Homo sapiens: one gene and its partners. The protein of the gene in region 3 interacts with the protein of the main gene of each other region in a pairwise test. Each region holds a gene or a part of one and is shown on either strand. Other genes may lie near its edges.

Region 1 (3,649 bases), on a different chromosome or scaffold from region 3:
CAAAAAAAGGAAGGAGATTCCTTTGAAACACATACTCCCTTGCTCCAAACTTATAACAATTTTTTTTTCTTTTTAAATTCACTACACAAACTCTGTGATTAGGTAAGAAAAGCGACGAGGGCTCTCCTTGCCTTTTTTTAAACCATTAAAGTAAAATCCATAATTTTCTACAGAGTACAACACAAGTTCACACAAAAAAGACATTTTCTTTTGCAAATCAAAACAGGAAAGAAAGGAAAAGCTCAAACAAGATAAAGGAAAAGCATTTCTACGGCTGAATCACGACTGAGTTGATTGAATCCCGTTGTTGCTGCAGAACAGACTGTGCGTTTGGTCATAGTGGCAATTTTTTTTTCTCTTCACATTGTGAAATCACTTTACATTGTTTTCTAGTAGAAAAGGCAAAAAACTGTACAAAACCCCTAGTGTTAAATACAACGTTTGTACCAATAAAAAACTCACACAGGTTTGTCTCCAAAATGTAAAGTTTCTTTTTTTTTTTCTTTTTAAATTATTCACAAAAAGCAGCTGGAAATCAGAAAGGCAGCTGCCGCTCCAGGGTCTCAAATCCATTAAAACCACCACAGAACAATTAAAACAATCAGAGAGAGAAAAGGAAAAGGAAACAACGTCCAACATTTGGCATTTGGTTTTATCCACAGGTTTTCCCAGAGCTCCTCTTGGAATTGAAAGCAAAATATATTGGCAAACACTGCTTCTCAATACACAGGAAGGGGAGCCTCAGTGCCTCCTGCCAACAGAGGCGGCTCTGTGCAGTCAGACTGTGGGGTGCACAGCAGTCTCTCAGGCTGGGGTTTCTGGCCTCTTTCCATCCAATCACCCCTTCCAGGAAATTCAGCAGCCTACCAGACACTGGGCCTCTGCCTGGCTGCCCTTTCCCCCAGGCAGAGCGGCCTTGGGCATAATACCAGGCAACCTGCCAGCCCCAGAGCAGAAACCCTGCTGGGATCCCTTCCTTCATCAACCTTGGTGTGGAGGATGCTCAATAGCGCTTCCACCTCCCCCTCCCCAGCCCCTAGCTACATCTCTCCACCCTTCCCTGGACAGTCCTACTTCCCAGCTCACCCACCCACCAGCAGCTTAAGTCTGGGTGGGATCTATCATCAGCTCCTCCCCCTGTAACCTCTTCCCTCCACAGATCCACCCTGTGCTCCTCTCCTCACCTCTCCCCCTCCACTCACATTCTTACTCAAGTCTCCAAGACCCTGAGGCTGGATGGTGCCACAAGAGAGGAGGGTCAGTTTCCCTCAGGGAACCAAAAAACTGGCTTGCTTGGCACCCAGGGACAGTAGCTGTTTGGCTCTCCACCCAATTAAAAAAACAAATCCCTGCCCTTTCCCCCACCCCACTAGCTAAGCAAGAGCAGAGCTGTGATGAAGAGCCAGTGCCGGGTGGCTGGTGCCCAGGGCTGTAAACAGTGTGAAGACTGTAGTATTGTGCTTGTCACCTAGGAAAAGCGCCAGCAGGTGAATTGCCGCTTGGTGTGCAGATGGCCTCCTACGGGTGATTGGGAGCGCCCTCCTTCCTCCAGGTGCTCACTGCCCCTAATGTGCTAAATAAGCCTCTTACCCACCTGCTGCCACCTTCTAGGCTCTACCTCTGCTTCTCGTGTCTCTCCAGGCCCCCTTCCCACCCTCTCTGAGCAAAGCAGCCAGCCTCCCGGAAGCCCCGGTAAGACCTGGAGGCCACACGAAGTGACAGTCTAAGTGCACAGGCAAACGCTCTAAGGGCAATAGAGGAGAAAGTTGCCACTTCAAAATTAAACAATACAATCTTGAAAAAAATAATCAACCCTACAACAATTTAAAACAGCTTCTTTGAAACCCTTTTAAATCGATCAGTTTTTGCACAAACTATAGAAAACAGAGAGGTGAAGGTGATATATACGAAGGTGTGAAGAAACAGCAGGAAACATGCAAAACTTTTTTCTGGGCATAATCTTAGTAGGAAAGGAAAAAATTCAAAACAAAAACACAAAAACAATACAAAAACAAAAACAACAACAAAAAAATCAAAGCATCACATTTTGCTGTGGAGACTGTTGGAACAAGCATGGGGCTGAGGGGAAGGGGCAGGCGGGATATCCAGGACTCCCCAGAGTCGCTCCAGGGAAGAACCACAAAAGAAAAAGAAAAAGAAAAAGGGCTGGCTGGGGCCCAAAGTGCAGCCTGCGGTCAAAAAGGAAAGGGGGTTCAGGTGCTCTCCGCAGTTGAGAACTCAGAAGAAAAACAAAAGAAAGAACAATACATGCGGTCTCCTCAAGCCCCACAGACTGTATCAGCAAAATGTGCTCAGGAGCCTCAGAGGTTTTAGTGACATCTTTTATTTCATTGTTTACTTCAAAGTTGTCTTTAAAACTAAGCACACAGAGAAACAAAGCCTAGAAACGGACTGGCTGTGTGTTCACAGAAATACAAACACCACGCGGTATGTGCTAGTAGGGCTGCTCTGAAGACAATTACAAAGAATTGGAATCACAAAATCAAGTGGTTATCTTATGAAGTTCTAGAAAAATAGATTTTTTTTATATTCAAATGCAAGTTTAAATATTTCCCCTTCAGCAGTCGTTCTAGCAAAACCAATTTGGCAGCACAAAAGGAAAAAAAAAGGAAAGAAAAAAAGAAAAAAAAACGAAGAAAGAAACAAACATAATAAAAATACACATCAGCATCAAAGGTCAACACAAGGTCAAAGGTGAGAGTTCAAGCATCAGAGAAGCTGAAGAGACAGGGATTTGGACGATGTACTTGACGCCACATCGACATGCTTTAGGCACAACGATGAACAAACGGCAGGAATCTAGAAAAAAAAACAAACCAGAAAGAGGGAGACCCACTGAGTTACACAGAGCAATACATCCAAACAAAGAGAGAGAGAACAGGAACACTCACTGTGTGTACAGCCCTGAAATGAGGTGGGCGGGCAGGGGTTGGGTAATGACAGGGAACTTTTGCACATGCTAACAATGGACACAGGGAAAAGTCAAAAAGGACATGGAGGACACCAAGAACACATCTAATTGCCAGAGACAGAAGGGAACCTAAGGCTTGGATTTTCCATGAAGCACCCAACTCCTAAGAGAAGGTCTCCAGGGGAGCAGAGCCTCAGCCTCTCTCCCCACTCCCTGGTCACAACCCAAGGGGAAGCAGAAGATGCTGGCTGGGGTGGGGAAAATTTTTCAGGGAAGAGGACCAGAATTTCTGCTCAATCTTATGGGGATGGCCCTTTGTTCCCAGAAATCCAAGCTCTTAGCTTCCATCCAGGCCCTGGCCACTCAAGGGGAACCCAGGAGACAGTGGTCTGGCTGCATTCAAGGCAAATCAATTTCATGATGTAACCCAAGTAAGAAACAAAACTACAGCAGAAAACACATTGTAAGTGAAACCTTCACACAACAGAAAAGGATTGCTTAAGACTTGACAGCGAGTCTCCACTCTGAGCTGAGCCCTTTCACACGTGAGACTTGTAGGGGAGCAGCTTCTTCACAAAACCATCTTTGGCCTGGGGAAAGAACTGTGCTCAAGGGCAGTGCTACTGCTGTGCTAACTCACTGGGCAGGGGGAGGAGAGAACAGAGAAGTGCATGGTCTCACCAGCTGGCTGCTCAAGCAGCCCAGGACCCTGCTGGG
Region 2 (3,649 bases), on a different chromosome or scaffold from region 3:
CTTTTCCTGGAGACAATCATCATTTTGTGATGTGCAGCAGAGGTGCACTATGCATACTTCCCATTTCATCACACAGAACATTCTCAACACATGTACAGGAGGATTCAAACTAATCCTTTTACTGCTTCATCAAGGACACTCTTAAATGAAACTGCCTTTTTATTTTTAACTGTGAGTGCATGCAATCTAAAAAACACAACAAGAAGCACAATTTAGTGCCAAGGCCTTTTTTTTTTTTTCTTGAGATGGAGTCTCACTCCAGTCATTCAGGCTGGAGTGTGATGGTGTGATCTCGGCTCACTGCAACCCCTGCCTCCCAGGTTCAAGCGATTCTCATGCCTCAGCCTCCCGAGTAGCCGCGACTACAAGTGCCTACCACCTAGCTTGGCTAATTTTTGTATTTTTAGCCTGACCATGTTGGCCAGGCTGGCCTCAAATTCCTGACCTCAGGTGGTCTGCCCACCTCGGCCTTCCAAAATGCTGGGATTACAGGTGTGAGCCACCACACCCAGCCTGCCAAGGCCTCGATTAGTGATCAGGTGCCAGTAGTATTAGCTGCCATTGCTGTTGTACCATCAGTACAAATGTCCAAACAGTAAAAAAGGCAGATAGCCTCTTAGTGTTGTTGTGAAGGAGTTTTGACCTTCTGACCTGCTCAAAGAGTCTTGAGGATCCCCCCAAGTTCCATGTACAACACTTTAAGAACTTCTTAGGGGCCAGTGAGGTCCTCACACTTGTAATCCCAGCAGTTTGGGAGGCTGAGGTGGGAGGATCGCCTGAGGACAGGAGTTCAAGACTAACCTGGGCAATATAGTGGGGCTCCATCTCTACAAAAAATTTACAAAATTAGCCAGGTGTAGTGGTGCATGTGCCTGCGGTCCCAGCTACTCGAGATGCTGAGGTGGGAGGGTTGCTTGAGCCCAGGAGTTTGAGGCTGCAGTGAGCTGTGGTCGTACCACTGCACTCCAGCCTGGGCAACAGAGCAAGACCCTGTCTCTAAAAAATAAAATAATCTCTTAGGAAATTCATTTAACATTTCTGCCTCAATTTCATCATCATAATATCTACCTTACAAGGGGTTGCTGTGAAAATTACCGAGATAGAACGTTGAGGTGCCTGGCACATAGTATGCTGATTACATGTGAGTTTCCTTCCCCTGCCCTCCCCTCTGTGCCCACTCTGATGGATCTAGTGAACTCCTACTGACTCTTCAATACCCAGCACGGTTGTCTCTCCTCTGGTAAGACTCCCCTGACTCTCCCAAAAGAGGTAGCTGATCTCTCTTTGGTGCTCCCTAACCATGCTGTGACCACATGTGCAGGACAGCCGTGTAGCAGTGTGCTTCTAGCTCTGAACCCCCAACTGGGCTGGGAGTTTCTGGCGGCAAACACCATGCCTTACTCACATTACTAACTGTAACCCTAGTCTATAGCGAGGTGGCCAGTAATCGGGTGCTGAATGAATGGGTCCTTTTCTTTCCACGTTGACTGCAAGTTGACTTCCTCACAAGAGGATAGAAGCGCTGTTTCCAGGGAACGCCCCAAGACTTCATTCATGGTGTGGCTGTTTGTCAGCGGAGGGAGGAAGAAAGGAGGCGCCATGTGGGGGAAGGGTCCTGGCTGAACCACTTTGAATTCTGTGTGGCCCATATTGGTGTGGCTCCAGCAGGAGTCAGACACACCGCTTTGGAGTCACTCAACTAACAGCCACTACTATGTGACCTTAGGGAGGACTCATAACCTCTAGGCCTTGCTCCTCAGCAATCAGTGGATCATAATAAAAGTGTCTGCTGCACAGGGTTCTGAGGGGGCCTGAGATGCAAGCTACGTGTCCACTTCCCCTCCCCTATCACAGATCAGCTTCCTGTGACCTACAGGAGTAACATGGAAAATTCCATCTGCAGCCTCTCATGAGTTGCACACTTGGAAACTCATTTCCTGGTGCTCCAGGCTTCCTTAACTGAGCGATATCTGTGTGCCAAGCCCTGTGCTAAATATCTTTTAATCATTTTCCACTTCCTACCTTCCCTGTAGATGAGGAGAATAAAAGCTCTCAATGAGATTTCACTAAGTCCTGGTTAGAAGGGCCAACTCTGGGACCCTCTGGGTAACATGAAGGAAGGGGTCACTCATGGGTGCTGCAGCCCCAAAGAGGAGAAAGAAAGAAACGAAACATTCACTAAGCACAATCACGTGATTTACAGGCACCAAGAAAAGGGAAGGCACATTGATAATTAGGAAACTGTTAAGAAAATAGTTCCTCATCATGGATTTTGGCCTGCCCTGTTCCTGATTATTAATTTAGGCCTTGAGAGATGTGGCTTTATGCATGTAATTTAACAGAAGTTGAAGATACAGGAGAGCTCACAGCTTATGCTGGGTGAGGAAAGGGGGCCATGCCCTCTTCCCAAACTGCTCTGAGGAACTGGGGACCAGCAACAGGTGTAAGATTCATGATGAAACCCTGAGGGTTCCTCTAGACTGAGTGACTCAGCCAGTTACAAAAAGACAAATAGTGTGTGATTCCATTTATATGAGGTACCTAGGGTAGTCAAAATCGGCTGGGCATGGTTGCTCACGCCTGTAATCCCAGCACTTTGGGAGGTGGATGCGGGTGGATCACCTGAGGTCAGGAGTTCCAGACCAGCCTGACCAACATGGAGAAACCCTGTCTCTACTAAAAATACAAAATTAGCCAGGCGTGGTGGCACATGCCTGTAATCCCAGCTACTCGGGAGGCTGAGGGAAGAGAATCACTCGAACCCGGGAGGCAGAGGTTGTGGTGAGCCAAGATCACACCATTGCTCTCCAGCCTGGGCAACAAGAGAAAAGCTCTGTCTCAAAAAAAAAAAAAAAAAAAAAAAAATCATACAGAAAGTAGAACTGCAATTACCAGGGGCGGTGAGGGAGGGGAATAGGGAGTTAGTGTTCAATGGGTATAGAGTTTCAGCTGGGGAGGATGACAAGTTCTGGAGATGGTGATAACTGCACAATGATTAATGCCACAGAACTGTATACTTAAAAATGGCTAAGATGGTACATTTCATGTTATGTGCATTTTACCACAATTTTTTTTAAGTCCAGGTGGGAAATGGAATGGACACAGGTGGTGGGCCTGAGGTCTACTGGCCAGTATCGGCTTGGCGAATGGGAAGCAGGAGGAGCAGAAGATGTCTCCCAGTCTCGGATGTCCCTCCTAGAGAGGGGACAGAGAGAAGGAGAGGAGTTGCGGTGTCTCAGACTCCCAGTGAGAGAGACAGAGAGACAGCTGCATCTGCCCATGAGTCAGGCAACAGGAGTTACTCTCAGAAGCTGCAGGGGGCTTTGGATCCTGCAGCAGCCTAGATGCAGACTCTTGCTTATCCCCCAGATATTTATTGAGGGCTTACTTTGTGCAGGGCGTTTCTTGACGGCCCCATTAGAATACACATAAGACCAAGAAAGTGACAGAAATTCAAAGAATCAGCAGAAAACCCAAAGGCAGCAGCAAGTGAAAGGAGAAAAGATGGCCCTAGCGTGGGCTGAAGGAAGGCCTGTATTACCTCTTGGTACAGACACCCCCAAACAAAAAGCAGAGGTAGATGGTCATTCTGACACCTGCCCTGCCATGGTGTTCTCAGGCCTGGACACCCCAAGAACTGGGCAGCTGT
Region 3 (3,649 bases):
TCTGTTTCTTCCATGTTCCTTCCTGGTGTAATACCTCAGGCAGTTTTCACTTTTATGATCATTTAACATTAAGTTCCCATCACATGTGGCATCCCACTGAAGGAACCTCCTGGCCTTGGTACCTAATTTGAAGCTTGGGCTGTGGAAAACATCATCAGTGAGCATGTTTGAAGTAGGACAGAGTCTGGCTGGAGAAACAGGTAGTGGGGGAGCTGGGAGCTAAACTTGAGAGGATGCCTCTTTCTTGATAGTTACTGTGCTAGGTGAGTTATGAGCACACTAATCCTTTAATCCTCACACCTCTGAGAACAGTGAGGGTGAAGCTGGAGGTCATTCTGGATTGTTTCAGTGGCTGTCACACAAATTCAAATTGAGGGGTAGAGGAACTAGGAAGCGTGGGTGTGGAGTTAAAACTAGGTCCTCTGGATGGCTTTTGTGAGAAGAACCAAGGAATATTCTTAAATCCCTGGGCTTTTCTCCTAATCTTTCTGCTGCTTTCTAAGTAGATTGTTAACATTGTGTGTGTTATCATTCAGCATTCTGAGAACTAGCTTTCCAGCAATAAATAGCTTTCAAGGTGTCCTTTGCCTTAACTTTTTCATTTTACTAAATGGTGCAGCCTTGTCCACATTCTGTCCGGGTCTTCACCATCTGGTTGTTTTTCCGGCTTGGTTTGATAGTTTGCAGCAGTCAGTGGTAAACATTGTGTTCCCTGTTCTGTAATGGTGGCTGGTTGTGTTCACCGAGCCAGGTGTCACTAAGGCCCAGTTGCACTTGGGAGCAAAGAAGGGCCCTGAGGTGAGTCCTGGAAGTAAAAATATGTATAACCTAGGGCTGATGAGGCTTGTTTCACTGCTGGGCTTAGCTGACAAGAGCCTGGGACTTGCTGCAGCTCTCAGAGCTGAAACCTGGCGGTGATTCTAGGCAGGCTGGTTGGCCTTCCAGATCTTGGTTTATTCAGTGGCTAAAAGAGGTTTGGTCAAAATTATCAGTATTCAGATTATGGTCCTGGGAGCCTTGGAGTTAGACCAAACGTGCCCAGGGGCCACTGGAGTGATGTGTTTGGGCTGGGGAGCACAGCTCAATGGGTAGTACATGTCAAAGACTTAAGGGGAAAAAAAACAACTCACTGTTCATCTCAAGTTCTTAGCTCTAAGGTGTGCTACTGTTCTAAATATTTTTTATTTTTAAAGATAGCTTTATTTGCCTAAATTTGTCCTGGGTGTGGGGAGTTTAGAGCTGCCTTGTCTGTAGGGTAGCTGCTAGCTGTGTGACTAATTAAACTTTTCAAAGTATTTTTAAAAAAATTTCTTAGTGACATTAGCCACATTTCAGGTTCTCAGTGGCCTCGTGTAGCTAGTGGCTGCCGTCCTGGTCAGTACAGGTCAAGAACATTTTCCATAATCGAAGAAAGTTTTGTTGGACAGCGCCGGCCTAGAAAGTTTTTTTTTCTCCAACTCTAAAAGCTTAATTGTCTCAACTTGTAAATCTCTAAAGCATAACATGTTTGAGCTTAGTCTTCCAGAGTCCATAAACCCAACAGCTTTGGTGACAAATTATCTACTGGTTGTCTCCATGGCATACTACAAGTGAGTTCTAGTCTGCCAGTTGGGAGTGGACGAACAGTTTTGAAACAGTTTGAGTGAGGACCTTCAGAAAGGACCTGGGGACAGGAGCGTGAAGCAAAGGTCCAGATGCTAAGCCCTTAGAAAGCCCTTTTGGTTTGAAGCCGTTTATTATCATAAAGATCCCTGCTGGTTTGTCCTTGGTCTCCAAATGTCAGATGTCAACATATTGTTACTTGGTCCTTCACCCACCTGATGACTTCCTACAGATCTCAGTGCGGCCCTTCTCTTAAACGAGGTTGTGTTTTCATTCTGCTGTTTCCAGTCCACCTAAATGTTAGGGGCCATTCTTCACAGAAGGTGTTGGGGGAGAGTGGGGCCACAGCGTGGATGCTAACGTGTTCTGTTGTGGCAGGGGTGGGGAGTTCTTTGTTTCCAGATGCCCCCTCTTCTAGTCCTGGGTGTGCTTTGTTTGAACCCTGCTAGATTGACCTTTGGTATATATAATGTGAGATCTCTTTTCTTGGAGCCAGGCAGCATAAAGGACACTTACTGATGAGCACCTACTGGCATATTAGTGGCTTTTTTTTTTCTGTGTCATTTTTATTCTCTGTCAGCCCTATGAGGTTAGTACAGTGATTAGTTTGTGGGTGAAGAAACAAGATCCGAGTAGAGTAAACTGGTCCCTGGACACAGCAAGGGCTGGACTGGCTTGGACCTGGGCTGGGGCGTGCTCCCCACCTCCTCCTCTGCCCCTGCCGCCCCCCATGCTCATTGGTTGTTGCTTATTTACTGCCCCTTTATCACCACATCCTCATTCAGGAAACTAAACTGGGTTTTACAAAGATTAAAATCATTGATCCCACATATGGAGTCTGACTTAAGTGTGTTCAGCCTCGTTACAACTCTGTGAGGGAGATATTCCCTATTACAGAACATCTTCATTTTATGGGAAACTGAAGTACAGGATCCTACTCTTAACTCTCTTGTCTTTCCAAAGCCATATTTTATCATCAGAATTATGCAACCATCGGGTGCTTTTGAAATGCACAAGTAATGACTATGAATAAAAAAAGCTGTGCCTGAGGGCTCAGGGAAACTGCTCTGAAGACTGAGCTGATTGAAAAAGACAATCCTGAAGTCACTAATTTCCCGACACCTGTCAGACCTCACTTGGAGGTCACAGACCATCTCCTGGCCCTCCAAAGGCTGTCACCCAGCAGTAGCTGGCCTCCTGATTAGAGGAGGCAGTAAGATCTTTTCAAGCACAGCCCCAGCCCCCATCCCTTCTCTGGCCTGGGCCTGGATGTGCCTTTGTGAGGTTGGGTCGATGACAGATCTGAAGGACAGTTCAGTCTTCTGTACACTCCTTCTTGCCCCTCCTTTCTGCCACTCCCAAGAAAAAGGAGCAGGAGTGATTCTCACTTTCCTGAACTGCCTTGGAGGGAGACCCACACTCAGCTGTGCCTTTAGCTGTCTCTGGGAGAAAAGGCCGTGCTGCAAATAACCTCCCTGCTTTGTCCTTTGGCTTTGGTGTGGCTCACCTGGCCAAGCATGTGCTGGTGCTATTTTTAGCAGGTGGCATCCTTTAGGAGGGCCAAGTGCATGTGGCTGCAGTGTACGGGACAGGTCCTGGTGCCAAAGCTGCTGCTGTCTCTGCTGCCACCGCCTCGTCAGGAGAGAGAGGAGAATAAAGCCACCCTGGAAGCTGCCAAGGGGTGTGTGGAGGGGGTGGCTGCTTAAGAGGTCTCCAGGGCTGCCTTTTCTATTCTGGATCTGTGGCAGGGGCCCAGCCTGCCTCCTGGTGCAGGCAGGCATGTGACTGAGGCAGCCCGGGGAGCTGGGGAGCTGGGGAGCTAGGTGTCAGACTGCTGCCTGGGGAGTGAGGACCCCTTGTTGCCCCAGCAGGCAATTTTTCAGGAAACCACATAACCCCATTAAAAACATTATTTATTTATTTATTTATTTATTTAGAGATGAGGTCTTGCTTTGTCACCCAGGCTAGAGTACAGTGGCTCGATCATAGCTCACTGCTGCCTTGAATTCCTGGGTTCAAGGGATCCTCCTGCCTCAGCCTCCCAAGT

The links.
Region 1: the proteins of AKAP1 (region 3) and CELF1 interact in a two-hybrid assay, tested with the Homo sapiens proteins (one large-scale study listed by IntAct).
Region 2: the proteins of AKAP1 (region 3) and DYSF interact in a two-hybrid assay, tested with the Homo sapiens proteins (one large-scale study listed by BioGRID and IntAct).

The regions. Positions count from the first base shown.
Region 1 is NC_000011.10:47,466,072-47,469,720, forward strand, and holds part of CELF1 (CUGBP Elav-like family member 1), read right to left. Parts: 3' UTR 1-3,649. UniProt on the Homo sapiens protein: RNA-binding protein implicated in the regulation of several post-transcriptional events. Involved in pre-mRNA alternative splicing, mRNA translation and stability.
Region 2 is NC_000002.12:71,473,135-71,476,783, reverse strand, and holds part of DYSF (dysferlin), read right to left. Parts: intron 1-3,649. UniProt on the Homo sapiens protein: Key calcium ion sensor involved in the Ca(2+)-triggered synaptic vesicle-plasma membrane fusion.
Region 3 is NC_000017.11:57,088,169-57,091,817, forward strand, and holds part of AKAP1 (A-kinase anchor protein 1, mitochondrial precursor), read left to right. Parts: intron 1-3,649.